Linked DNA regions of Homo sapiens. Each later gene encodes a partner of the first gene's protein in a complex. Each region holds a gene or a part of one and is shown in the gene's direction. Other genes may lie near its edges.

Region 1 (7,029 bases):
TGAATTCTTTATCTTTTCCCTCCCATCCCCTTAAGGACTTTTCACATTCTTTTATTTCATTTTTTCTCACTTTCAATCTTTTCTAAAAAATCAGTTCTTTTCCTTGTTATTTATATATGTATCAGACTCTTAACTACTGAACAAAACTTTTTCTAATCTCAGGTCCCCCACCACTAATTTATCTATCATTTGTGAAATCATTTGAGTAGCCACTATCTTTTCAAAGACTATTTTTAAAACCCTGTACTGGTGCCTCAAGATGAGTAAGATATAGTCTTTATCAAAAAGGCTTACAGTCTAGTAGAAGAGGCAATACCTAGATTTGGGTCTGCCATTACCAACTATAGCAAGTGTTTTCTCCTTTCTAGCCTCTTTTTTATTATCTGCAAAATGTACATCATGGTTTAAAATGACTATAATTCTGTGCCTTATAAACAAATAATTTGATACAGTATTTAATAGATAGCCATAACGGAACAATATAATTACCTTGGAAATCAATAGAAAGGTCACTTTTTGCTGTCACTGAGTGGAAAAGTGGCAATTTGAATTGAATCCACAAAATTCCAGAAAAATATGAGTGAAGCCGTGGAGAATAGAAGCATGCAGTGTAGATATAAGACAAGGCATGCAACCTCAGGTGACTACAAAATGGTTTCCATCTGAGAGTCTTGGTATTAGATACGATTATTAAGGCAAGTACATAGAGAGACGAAGGACAAAATACATAGGATTGATTACTAAGGCAAGTACATAGAGACGAAGGATGAAACGGCATAGGGTTGGAGGGGGACAGATGACTGGACAATGCCAACTTTTAAGCAGGAGGTAGAGAAAGAAGATTCAGTGAGGAAGCCAGAGGAGGCTCAGAGTGGTATAGAGGAAAATCACAATATGTTTCAAAAAGTGGGGAATAATCTATCTGGTTAAATGCTTCAGAAGTCAAGGATCATGAGGACTGGTTGGAGCGCCATCATTGATAATGTAAGAAGTCATTGGTGAATTTTGAACATGAGAGGAAGTCAGTTTGCATTGAGTTAAAAATAAGGTATTGAGAAAAGAAAGCTATGAGGAGATTACTGTTTTACATGGCTTGTGATTAAATGGGCCAATTTCAGCAGCTGGCATAACGAGCAAATCTCATTGTTTCTTGCTTTCAAGGCTAGAAGCAATATTTCTGGATTTTTATTTGAGCCAGTTTCATTGTATCCCATTGCAGAGATGTTTCATTGTTAGATAATTATTGTCAGCTGAAAATATACTTACAGAATTTATTCTTACTGACCTATAAACTATTATGGAGTTCCTCACAAGCCGCTAGTGGTGAACAAAAGTTGGAGGAATTTCAGTGTGTGCTGGAGTTAATTTACAAAATAAGTCTTAAGTACATCTAAGTTTTAAGTAACCCTTTTACCTGCAAAATAGTGACTTGTAGACAGGCGACTTTGCAAGGTGTAGGAATACCCATCTTTTTAAAAAAAAAATTCTATTTTTTATCACCCAGGCTGGAGTGCAGCTGTGCAATCATAGTTCACTGCAGCCTTGACCTTCTGGGCTTGATTGATTCTCTCACCTCAGCCTCCTGAGTAGCTGCGACTACAGGCACTCACCATCATGCCCAGCTAAGTTTTTTTGTGTGTGGATTTTTAGTAGAGACGAGGTTTTGGCATGTTGCTCAGACTGGCCTTGAACTTCTGGGTTCCAGTGATCCACCTGCCTTGACCTCCCAAAGTGCTGGGTTTACAGACGTGAATCACCACACCCGGCCGGAATACCCATCTTTTAAGTTCAAGAGTCAAGGATATTTGTCGCTTGTCTGGCTATTATAACTTTTTATTATAAATTAAATTGTAATCTCCATCTCCTCTTTACATATCAAGTACATAATGAGAACAAGTAAAAGGCTCAGAAGAAAGAACAGATAATCCAAAAAATTGCCCTTTTGTTTGTCCCAAAGCTTTAATAACTATAGTAATTAACAACAACCATTTATTCAGCACTTATTATATGCTAAACACTAGGATTGGAATTTTGTTGTCCCTACAGTTTTCACTATAAGGAGATTGAAACCTTGACAGCCAAAGTGGTGCGGGCAGGGTTAAAATTAAAACCTTCTAATTTTTTACTAATCAAGTTCTTAATCAGCTCAGATTAGTGTTCCCCATGGGCATTAGATCCAACCCCTGGGCAGACACAGATGGAAGAAATTTGATATAGTCAAATGATAGATATTTATTAGTAAAGGGGATTTGGTTTTAAGTAGCAGAAACCCACATACATTAACTTAAACAATAAAAGGGGAACTTACTGGAAGGATAATGCTATATTTTAAGGAAGATTTGTGCAACACATCTTAGGAAGCAACAAAAAATAGGGAAGCAGACTGGACATGGTGACTCACGTTTTTAATCTGCACTTTGGGAGGCCTAGACTGGAGGATTGCTTGAGGCCAGGAGTTCAAGACCAGTCCAGGCAACATAGCGAGACCCCCGTCTCTATAAAATAAATAAATAAATATGAAAAAAATAGGGAAGTTCTAGAAATTAAAAAAAAACAAATTTTCTCATCTTCCTTTCTTTTTTAACACCATTACGTTGCTTTTCTCTTGAACTTTGTTTCAAATTCTTGAGATAAATTTTCCTGTATACCGAAAATCATTGGCTTCCAGTGGATCGGATGTCTGTTCTTTGTTCCTTTCCACTGGGCAGGGCACAGGGTGCCATTGTATATTAAGGTTATAGATGATCATTTCTTCATGCCACAGAGCAATTCTCAGGGTAGGACAAAATTTGGGGAAATGGTGTGATGAATGGAACAATATTTAAAAATAAAACTGTCCTAGAGAATCCACTCTATATGATGCTAAATATCAACTTTTTTGGCCTTTTTTTGCACTTAATATTGGCATAAAGGAATGGTCAAGAGCATACAGGAAGAGATAATTTATGATGGGCTCTTTAACTCCTTTCAATATACAGTATGAGAAATGTATAATAGGAAAATTTTGCTAGCCAGGGAGAGAGTTTCCTCTCCTAGTTTCCCAGAAGTAATTATTTTCCTGAGATCTGAAGGAAGGGTAGGGTCAACTAGGCAACTAGGAAAGAACATTCCACATAAGAGAGTAGACCCTATGGCAAGAAGGGATAGGACATTGTTGAGGAACTGCAAAGGCCAGTCAGTCTATATATAAAACACAGATAGCAAGAGAAACTGTCACATTGTCACATAATATATCTCCATAGCACCTTGTTTCTTTTCATATAGACACTTACCATAGTCACTAGTATTTTAACCTTTTATTTATGCAATTATTTAACTCATGTGTAGCTCTTCTTCTTGAGGTCAAATTTCATGTAGTTTCTGCTCACCATTGTATTCCCACTATCCAAACTCAATGCCTAGGACTTAATAGATGAGGCTAAACACATAAGTGGGCTTCAAATGGTACAGGACTTATGGGCTCCGATTTCATTTTTCATTCTTAAGTCTATCTTCAGAAATTTTGCCATCTATGGAGAAAATGAAGCATATTTCATATTTTTCTTCATTTAGCTATATTAGGCAGGTGGGTGTGTAGCAGTCCACCAGTGTGTGTGTGTGTGTGTGTGTGTGTGCATTTTAGTGTATGTGTAGTGGTGGTGGCTGAATGAATAAGAAGAGCCTAGCCCAATTGTTGACACATGGAGCAATGTTGGTGGGAATGTAAATTAGTATAATATCTATGGAAAACAGTATGGAGATTTCTCAAAGAATTAAAAATAGAACTACAATTTGATCCAACAATCCCACTACTGGGTATCTCCCCAAAAGAAAATAAATGAATAGGACATCTGCACTCATGTTTATCACAACACTAGTGTGTGTGTGTATAATATACCACAGAATATTACAGAGCCATAAAAAAGAATGAAATCATGTCTTTTTCAGCAACATGAATGCAGCTGGAGACCATCATCCTAAGTGAAATAACTCAAAAATAGAAAGAAATATTATACCTTCTCACTCATAATTAACTACAAAATGTGTACTTATGGATGTAGAGAGTAAAATGATGAACCACAGAGACTTGGAAGGGAGAGGGAGTAGACAGGTGGATGATGAAAAATTACTTAATAGGTACAATGTATGTTATTCAGGTGATGGATACACTAAAACTCTGATTTGACCACCACACAACCTATCCACATAATAAAATCATGCTTGTACCCCATTAATTTATACAAATACAAAAATAATAATCTAAAAATAATGAATTTTAGAAATAATGTTTACCAATTATGGTTGTGTCCTCTTTTGTGTTATAGGGGAGCTGAAGAAGCCCAGAACAACAATTCCCAAATGCATATTTACTGCGTTACCTCTGGTGACTGTAGTTTATTTACTGGTTAACATTTCCTATCTGACTGTTCTGACACCCAGGGAAATTCTCTCTTCAGGTTTGTATGCAAATGGCTAAAGCAATAAATAAAGTGCTGGTCCTTTCAACGTAACTATCATTTCACCAGTCAGAACCACTGTTTACTGTTCATTATTCTATATATGGAATCAACTTATAATTTTCTAAAATAACAGAGGGCCAAAGGGAATGATTTGTCTTAGAAAGGAGATTCATCTTTAAGCATGGTTATGCCTTTTCTAATAATATGGAAAGATGTATATAATGTTGATGTATGGTGTAGATCAGATTCAAAATATTAGTATTCCTTTCATGATCTCATCTCACTAGAGTGACACTGAGTAATCACTGTTTACATCGATTTTAAAACTTTCAAAATGTTTGAGTCTCAATGTTTTTCTAGGTGTCACAAAAAATGATCAATTCGAAGTGTAGAATATTGGCAGTTAAAAGAGTAGATGCTAATGTTCAATTGATGCATATAATTAATATTGATGTTAAAATAATACGGTTTACCATGAACAACTCTAAAATTTATGGTGGCAAAGTGTCCTGAACATATTGGAAATCTGACCAAAAAATAGCTATCTTAGAGACCAAATTGTAGAATAAAGAATAAAAGAATGAGAAAATTTTAAATAAATATACATTGAAAAATGAGTAACAGATCAACGAATAAAAAGAAATTTGGAAAGAAATGAGAAACAGGGAAAGTGGAAGACTAGTAATTTCCTCAAGCCAGCATTAAACGACCTCACAAGATAAACCTATCACCCAGTACCTTTAGGACTAATGTCTTTTGAGCAGCTATTATTGGTTTGGTGAATCTTTGAGGCATGGACGCAAACCTAAGGGAGATTTTGATATAAAATTCTGGTAAACTTTGCCTCAATTCTTATGTTACTGCCCTGCAGGGTGATGCCATATGGTATCAGTGCTGATTCATAATGGTCTAGCTATCTTAGGGACCTATAAACTAGATGGATTCAAGCTTCTGAGTGTCTGTGGGAAAAAACCAAATGCAAATTCAGATCAGAACAAGCAGTGATTTATTAACTACCTTGATTATGTAAAGAATAAATTTACAAAGTTAATTGTGGGTGTGGTTGGGGCTGCTGGTCAGCTAGCACCATTGTTACGGTTCATTGAAGCTGGCGTCTGTTATGACTACCAGTGCTCCGTCCATACGGGTTGTTAAAAAATCATGAATATCTCCTTCGGTGTAATAATGATTATAGCAATTTTGTAGATGGCACAATGATTTTGGCATGTGTGGAAGACTCGTGAAGTGTTTTGACCATCATCACTTTTAATTTGGCTACAATGCTTACTTTTTTAGGCATATCATCTTTAGACTTTTTGTTTAAATTCTGGGGACTGTGGTGGGGTGGGGGGAGTGGGGAGGGATAGCACTGGGAGATATACCTAATGCTAGATGACGAGTTAGTGGGTGCAGCGCACCAGCATGGCACACGTATACATATGTAACTAACCTGCACAATGTGCACATGTACCCTAAAACTTAAAGTATAATAAAAAAAAATTCTAAATTAATCTTTTTAAGTCCAAATATCTGCGTGTTTATTGTACAAGAAATTTAAATTAAGAAAATAATCAGTCATACATGAAAAATGTATGTATAGGTATAGTAATCATAGCTTTATGTATGATAGCAAAAAATTAAAAACCATAAAAATATCCAATAAGCTTGAAACAAATAAAAAATTTATGGGAAATCTATATAATAGAACATTCTGTGATTTGTAAAAGATGATATTGTTGATGGATACTTGAAGAAAAGGGGCAATGTTAAATCAATAATGAGGAAAAAGTCAGGATGTATATAATGATATAAAACAGTAAATAAGTAGTTAACAATGGTGATCAATGGGAATGATATTGTATGTGATTTTTACTTTATTGTTTGCACTGAATATTCCAAATTTTCTTTAAAGTGCAAAATTTGTGTAATAAGGGGGAAAGTTATAAGCAAAAGAAATAGTTTTTTTTTTTTTTTTTGAAACAGAGTCTTGCTCTGTTGCCTAGGCTGGAGTGCAGTGGCACAATCTTGCTCACTGCAACCTCCACTTCCCAGGTTCAAGCGCTTCTTGTGCCTCAGCCTTTTGAGTAGCTGGGATTACAGGCATGGGTCACCACACCTGGCTAATTTTTGTATTTTTAGTAGAGATAGGGTTTTGTCATGTTGGCCAGGCTGGTCTGACCTCAACTGATTCTCCCTCTTGGCCTCTCAAAGTGCTGGGGTTACAGACGTGAGCCACTAGGCCCAAATATAGTTTCTTAAATTAAGAAATTTTAACGATTAAGGGATGCATTTTTTTCAATCAAACAAGTATATGTAAAAAATATGAAAAGTTTCCATATGAATATAGAGCATCCATGATGTGGCAGGAATTGGATACTACATTTTATTTAAGGAACATTGAAAGAATTACACCAGGCTGCGATAAATATTAGATTCTAATATTTGTGGTTTAGATAGAAAAAGAAAGAATGGTATTAATCATGTAATGTTTTTGTCTGTGTCCGTGTCAGAGCTCTGACTTGTTTCTTCACCTATTTTTCTCTTAGGAAATAAAATAGCCTTTATTATGAATAAGTTTCACAACTGAGAA
Region 2 (7,029 bases), on another chromosome or scaffold:
TAATTTGTTAAATGTAAGTATTAAAACTATACAATTTTTAAATAACAGCTTTGTCGAGATATAATTCACATACCATAAAACTTTTTTTTTTTTTTTTTTTTTTGAGACGGAGTTTTGCTCGTTACCCAGGCTGGGGTGCAGTGGTGTGATCCCGGCTCACTTCAACCTCTGCCTCCTGGGTTCAAGTAATTCTCCTGCCTCAGCCTTTAGAGTAGCTGGGATTACAGGTGCCCACCACCACACCCAGCTAATTTTTTGTATTTTTAGTAGGGACACGGGGTTTCATCATGTTGGCCAGGCTGGTCTCGAACTCCTGACCTCAGGTGATCCACCCATCTTGGCCTCCCAAAGTGCTGGGATTACAGGTGTGAGCCACTGAGCCCAGCCAAAATTTACCGTTATTAAAGTATATAATTAAGTGGATTTTCGGTATATTCACAGAATTATGCAACCATCACCAATGTCTCATTCCAGAGCATTTTCATCACCCCCAAAATAAACCACATCTCCACTAGCAATAACTGCGCATGGCCCCTCCCTCTCTGTCCTCAGTCTCTGGCAACCACTCACCTACTTTCCGTGTCTATGGATTTGCCTATTCAGGGCATTTCATATAAATGGAGCTATACGATATGGGACTTTTGTGTCTAGCTTCTTTCACTTAACATAGTGTTTTCAAGGTTTATCCATGTTGTAGTATGTCTCAGTACATCGTTCCTTTTTATGGCTGAATAGTAACTTCCATAAAGCCCATTTTGTTTATCTGATCATGAATTGACAGAGATTTGTTTTCACTTTTGGACTATTACGAATAGTGATGCTATGGACATTTGTGTACAAGTTTTTATAAAAACATGTTTTCAATTCTCTCTGATATATATCCAGGAGTGGAATTGCTCCACTGGGCATATGGTAAGTCTACATTTAACTATTTGAGGAACTGCCAAACTGTTTTCCAAAGTAGTTACTCCATTTTACATTCCCACCAGCAATGTTACGAGGGTTCCAATTTTTCCACATCTCATCAAGCCTTGTGATGGTCTGCCTTTCTGATGATGGCCTTCCTACTGAGTGTCAAGTTGTTATCTCATTGCATTTTTTTTTTTTTTTTTGCATTTCCCTGATGGCTAATTTTGTTGAGGGTATTTTCATGTGCTTATTGGACATCTGCATGTCTTATTTGGAGTAATGTCTGTTCAGATTCTTTGCCTATAATTAAATTTGGTTGTCTTTTTATTGTTTAGTTGTAAGAATTCCTGATATATACTGGATAGGTGATTTGCAAGTATTTTCTCCCATTCTGTGGGCTTTCATGTCACTTTCTTGATAGTGTCCCTTGAAAAGCACAGAAGTTTTTAATTTTTATGAAGTCCAGTTGTTTTGTTGTTGTTGTTACTTGTACTTTTAGTGTTATATTAGAAACCATTGCCTGGTCTATTTATTCCAGCACCACATGCTAAAAAGACTATTCTTTGCTTCATTGGATTATCATGGAATCTTTGTTGAAAAATCAACTGATTGTAGGCTGGGCGTGGTGGCTCACATCTGAAATCCCAGCACTTTGGGAGGCTGAGGTGGGAGTTGAGCCCAGGAGTTCAAGTTTGCCTTGAGCCATGATTACACTCCAGGGTGAACTCCAGCCTGGGTGACAGAGTGAGACCCCGTCTCTAAATGTAAAACAAAACAAAAAAAAGAAAATCAGTTGATTAGATTTCCAGACTCTCAGTTCTGTTCATCTATATGTCTGTCTCTATGCCTGAACACCCTGAGTTGATTAGTGTAGCTTAGTAAGTTTTGACATAGAGAAGTATGGGTCCTCCAACTTTGTTATTTTTCAAGATTGTTTTAGCTGTTCTGGGTACCTTATATTTCCATGTGAATTTTAGGATTTCCATATAAATTTTAGAATAGCCAACTGGGATTTTGATAGGGATTGCATTGAATCTGTTTATCATTTTTGGCAATCATGCCATCTTGTCTTCTAATCCATGAAGACAGATGTATCTTATTTAGGTCTTTAATTTCTTTTGATGATGTTTTGTATTTTTCATTGTACAAGTCTTAGACTTTTTGTTCAGTTTATTCCTAAGTATTTTGTTCTTTTGATATTATTGTAAACTGAAGTGTTTGCTTAATTTCATTATTGGATTCTTCATTATTAGTGTATAGAAATACAATAGATTTGTGTATATTGATCTTGTATCCTAAAACATTGCTGAACTTGTTTTTCGTTTCTAATAGTTTATTGTGAATTCCTGAAGAATTTTTTTTTTTTTAATTTGAGGCAGAGTCTTGCTCTGTTGCCCAGGCTGGAGTGCAGTGGTGTGATCTCAGCTCATTGCAAGCTCCGCCTCCCGGGTTCATGCCATTCTCCTGTATCAGCCTCCCAAATAGCTGGGACTACAGGTGCCTGCCACCATGCCTGGCTAACTTCTTGTATTTTTAGTAGAGACGGGGTTTCACCGTGTTAGCCAAGATGGCCTCGGTCTCCTGACCTCATGATCTGCCTGCCTCAGCCTCCCAAAGTGCTGGGATTACAGGCGTGAGCTACTGTGCCTGGCCTTCTGAGGAATTTTTTGTTTTAAAATTATTGCAAAATATACATAAAACAATTTTAAACATTCAAAAGTGTGTAATTCAATGCATTAAATACATTCAAAATGTTGTACAACCATCACCATTATCAGTTTCTAGAACTTTTATCATCCCAAACAGAAAATCTGTACCCACTAAACAATAATTCCTCACTTCCACCACTAACCCCTGATATCCTCCATTCTATTTTCAGCCTCTATAAATTTGCCTATTCTAGGTACCTCATATAAGTGGAATCATAACAATATTTGTCCTTTTGTGTCTGCCTCATTTCACTTAGCTTAATGTTTTCAACTTTCCTTCATACATACAATAGCATGTATGAGATCTTACTCCTTCTTATGACTGAATAACATTCCATGGTACCTATGTAACACGTTATCTATTCATCTGTTGGTGACGTTTGTGGTTTTGCCTCCTTTTGGCTGTTGGAATAATGTTACAAACCAATGGTGTACAAGTATCTGTTTAAGCCCCAGATTTCAATTCTTTTGGATCTATACCATGGAGTGGAATTGCTGGATCACATAATACTTCTTTTGTTTTGTTTTTTGAGATGGAGTCTCACTGTATCACCCAGGCTAGAGTGCAGTGGTATGATCTCGGCTCACTGCAACCTCTGCCTCTGGGTTCAAGCAATTCTTATGCCTTAGCCTCCTGTGTAGCTTGGATTACAGGCATGTGCCAACATGACTGGCTAATTTTTGTATTTTTAGTAGAAATGGGGTTTTACCATGTTGGCCAGGCTGGTCTGGAACTCCTGGCCTCAAGTGATTTGCTGCCTTGGCCTCCCAAAGTGCTGGGATTACAGGCATAAGCCACTGTGCCCAGGCTTTTTTTTTGAGACAGGGTCTCACTTTGTCATCACCTAGGCTGGAGCACTGTGGTGTGAACATGGCTCACTGCAGCCTTGACCTCCTGGGCTCAAGCAATCCTCCTGCATTAGCTCCCACAAAGTAGCTGGGACTATAGGTGCATACCACCATACCTGGATAATTTTTGTATTTTTTGTGGAGATGGGGTTTTGCCATGTTGTCCAAGCTGGTCTTGAACTCCTGAGCTCAAGTGATCTTCCCACCTTGGCCCTTAAAGTGTTAGGATTACAGGTGTGAGCCACTGTGCCCAGCCTTGGATCATATAGTACTTCTGTGATTTTGAGGAACTACCAAACTGTTTTCCATAGTGACTTCTCCGTTTTACATTCCCATCAGCCATGTACGAAGGTTCCAATTTCTTTTCATCCTCACCAACACTTTTCTGTCTTGATTTAAAAAATTATACTCATCATAGTACAAATGAAGTGGTATCTCATTTTTTCATTATTGAATAACAGTTTTGCTGGATATAGAAATCTTGGTTTACAGTTCTTTCTTTCATCACTTTGAATATGTCATCCCATTGCCCTCTGGCCTTCATGGTTTCTGATAAGAAGTCAGTTGCTAATCTTATTGAGACTCCTTACATGTGATGTACCAATTTTCTTTGCTCCTTTAAAGATTCTGTGTCTTTTAACGGTTTGACTGATATGTCTAAGTGTGGGTTTTTAAAAATTTTGTCCTACTTGGAGTTCATTGAGGTTCTTAGATACACAATTTTTAAAAAAATCAAATTTGGGAAGTTGTTGGCTATTTTTTTTTTAAATATTGTTTCTGACCATTTCTCTTCCTTCTCTCCTTTTGAGACTCCCATTATGCATATGTTGGTATGCATGATAGTATCCCACAGGTCTCTGAGAGTCTGGTTTTTTTTTTTGAGACAGGGTTTTGCTCTGTTGCCCAGGCTGGAGTGCAGTGGTGTAAACATGGCTCACTGCAACCTTGATGTCCTGTGCTCAATTTTCCCATCTCAGCTTCTTGAGTAGCTGAGACTACAGGTGCATGCCACCATGCCTGGCTAAATTTTTAATTTTTTTGTAGACATGGGGTCTCACCATGTTGCCCAGGCTGGTTTAGAACTCCTGAGCTCAAGCATCTTCCTGCCTTGGCATCCCAAAGCACTGGGATTACAGGTGGGAGCCACAGTGCCTGGCCTCATTCTTCTTTTTCTTTCTGGTTCTCAGGCCAGATACTCTCAATTGAGTCTTCAAGTTTTCTGATTCCTTTGCTAGTTCAAATTTGTCAAGTCCCTCTAGTAAACGTCTCACTTTAGCTATTGTACTTTTTAACTCTAACAGTTTTATTTTTTCATAATTTCTCTTATCTATTTGATAACTGTTCATATACTTTAAATTCTTCAGGCACAGGTTTTTTCTTTGAATATCAAAATATTAGCTGGTTTAAAATCTTTGTCTAGTAAGTCCAATGTTTGGTCTTCCTAAGCAATATTTGCTATTGACTCCCCCCACCATTATATGAGCCATATTTTCCTGTTTTCTTTGACTGTTTTGTATATTTGTTGTTGTTGTTAAAAACCGGACATTTTAAGTAGTATGACAATTCTGGAAATCACATTCTTCCTTTCCCAGTGTTTGTTGTGCTCTATGTCCAGAAGTCTTGAGAAATCAAAGGGTTTCTTGTCAGAAGATCTCATGACAGTGAAAAGAATAAAAGGATGGAGGCAAAAATTGACCTAATTTTCTGGCCATAAACATAGAAAAATACTTCACAATGGTCTATAAAAACGTAATTATAAAGATCATTTTCATACAGCTAAGGAAGTTAAAAAAAAAAAAACCCAACCTCCTATTTCTTGAATTGTAGCAATTAAGTCTTGTCCTAAGACTCAAGTTCGAACGCTAGTTCTGTCTTAGACTACTACTTGAATAAATGATGTAATTTCTCAGAGCTTGTTTCCTCATTTGTAAAACGGAGATAGTACTTGCTAGCACTGTTGTGTGAAGGAGGGAAATATAGGTGTGAAAGTACTTTTTAAAAAGTAAAGTGCCATGCTCAGCGTATGCACATGAGGGTTTGAGTTGTGGGTTATGGAGAGAGTTGTCAGGTGATTTAAATAAATTCTTATTTAAACAAACTTATTTAAATAAGGGCTAGAATATACCTAGAACGTTTAACATGGAAATATATTTACAAATAGAAAACACTTTATAAAATTTCATCTTGGAGTATGTAAATTCTTTCTAAAAGTTGATTTACTTTAAAAATTTTGTCTGAATAATTCATAAGTCAAAACAATTTTTTAAAAGAGGACACATCAGAAGTCTCTCATGCCTGTCCCTTTCACCTGGGTTCCCTTGTCTTGCTCTCTGCCACAGTTTTGCTTCCTTTCCTGTCAATATTCTCTTATCCAAATATGAGAAAATATGACTATGTACCCTCTGAGTTTTATTTGCAATATCATTGTACAATAAATTCTTATCACCCTTTTCTTGCTCATCAGTGGCCAAGATAATAAATTGGTCAGTTACACAGCAAATAGCAGGCCTAGGACTCAAGTCCAGGCTTGCTAGTACCAAGGTACCACATCTACTTTGTTTTGCTACGTTGTGAACTTTCTGTGAAATAGGGTAAATCTTTCAGAAAACTGTGTATACAGCTGTGTTCTTAAAAATATCTGCCTTTCAGATTGGTGGACCAGACAGTTCACGGCTGACTTCGCGTTTGGGGAATCAGTATGTCAACGTGATGAACATGCTTCTTTTCACACTCCCTGGAACTCCTATAACTTACTATGGAGAAGAAATTGGAATGGGAAATATTGTAGCCGCAAATCTCAATGAAAGCTATGATATTGTAAGTTGAATACAACTTGACTATTCATCACAGCTATAAAACCAAGTATTCATTTTTTATTTTTTGCCAAATCAGAGAACTTACTATCTCTCTATTGCATTGCTGAAAATCATGGTTACTTTGCTTTTCTTTCTTACTGTTAGTAAGAATTCTCAGCTTTCTTGGTGGTCTGAGAGCTTATTTTAAAAATGCTTTGGAGCCATACAACTAAAAGTTTCTTGGGTAGGGCATTTTAAAGATGTTTTCTACCTGATAGGCACATTAAAATTTATTTATTTATTTTGCCAGGAATACTGTGTTGAGAGGCACACTAAAATTGGAGAACCGGTGGTTTAGTTTAGAATATGACTCATTTCCCTCTACTTGAAATGTGGAGTTAGGAACACTTATTTCTTTAGTTCTCATTTGTCCTGTTTGGTCTTGGGTGACCACAGCACAAGGACCCTTTTCTTTTCTGTTATCAGGTGCAGTGCACAGCCTCAGAGTTAAGCAGTTTTTATTTTGTAGCTACAGATTTCAGAATTGTGTTGCTGGGTAGACGACTATCTTGCAACTTTAATTGCCTAGTTAGCTTTCAACTATATGAGATCCAATTTCCCTAATATTTGATTAAGGTGAAGCTTTTTTCCCTCTATCAGCTCCTACATTTGTGTGTGTGCACTCATGAGCAATAATCAGGCTGAATAAACGAGTAGGACAGAATTCATACTCACTTGTACATGGCAGTGTTCTTAAATTCACCAAC

The links. The genes of interacting proteins can lie anywhere in the genome.
Region 2: the proteins of SLC7A13 (region 1) and SLC3A1 are in contact, whole or in part, in a cryo-EM structure (PDB 8WK6), measured with the Homo sapiens proteins. Residues at the interface, in NP_620172.2 of Homo sapiens: Ile120, Phe123, Phe124, Pro125, Ser126, Cys127, Leu132, Pro133, Cys136, Leu137, Leu139, Ala140, Met141, Trp143, Ile147, Arg151, Lys187, Thr265 (codon at 4,412), Arg267 (codon at 4,418), Asp281, Arg282, Glu450, Cys454, Tyr455, Gln457, Leu458, Leu459, Phe460, Asn461, Ile462; in NP_000332.2 of Homo sapiens: Pro64, Tyr65, Ala66, Gly67, Met68, Pro69, Lys70, Leu73, Phe76, Ser77, Arg81, Tyr82, Pro85, Arg86, Leu89, Phe90, Thr93, Ser96, Val97, Leu100, Ile101, Thr104, Ile107, Ile108, Ser111, Cys114, Leu115, Glu194, Asn195, Asp202.

Annotation. Positions count from the first base shown.
Region 1 is NC_000008.11:86,220,379-86,227,407, reverse strand, and holds part of SLC7A13 (solute carrier family 7 member 13), read left to right. Parts: intron 1-4,304; coding exon 4,305-4,436; intron 4,437-7,029. UniProt on the Homo sapiens protein: Associates with SLC3A1/rBAT to form a functional heterodimeric complex that transports anionic and neutral amino acids across the apical plasma membrane of renal epithelium.
Region 2 is NC_000002.12:44,306,470-44,313,498, forward strand, and holds part of SLC3A1 (amino acid transporter heavy chain SLC3A1), read left to right. Parts: intron 1-6,116; coding exon 6,117-6,284; intron 6,285-7,029. UniProt on the Homo sapiens protein: Acts as a chaperone that facilitates biogenesis and trafficking of functional transporter heteromers to the plasma membrane.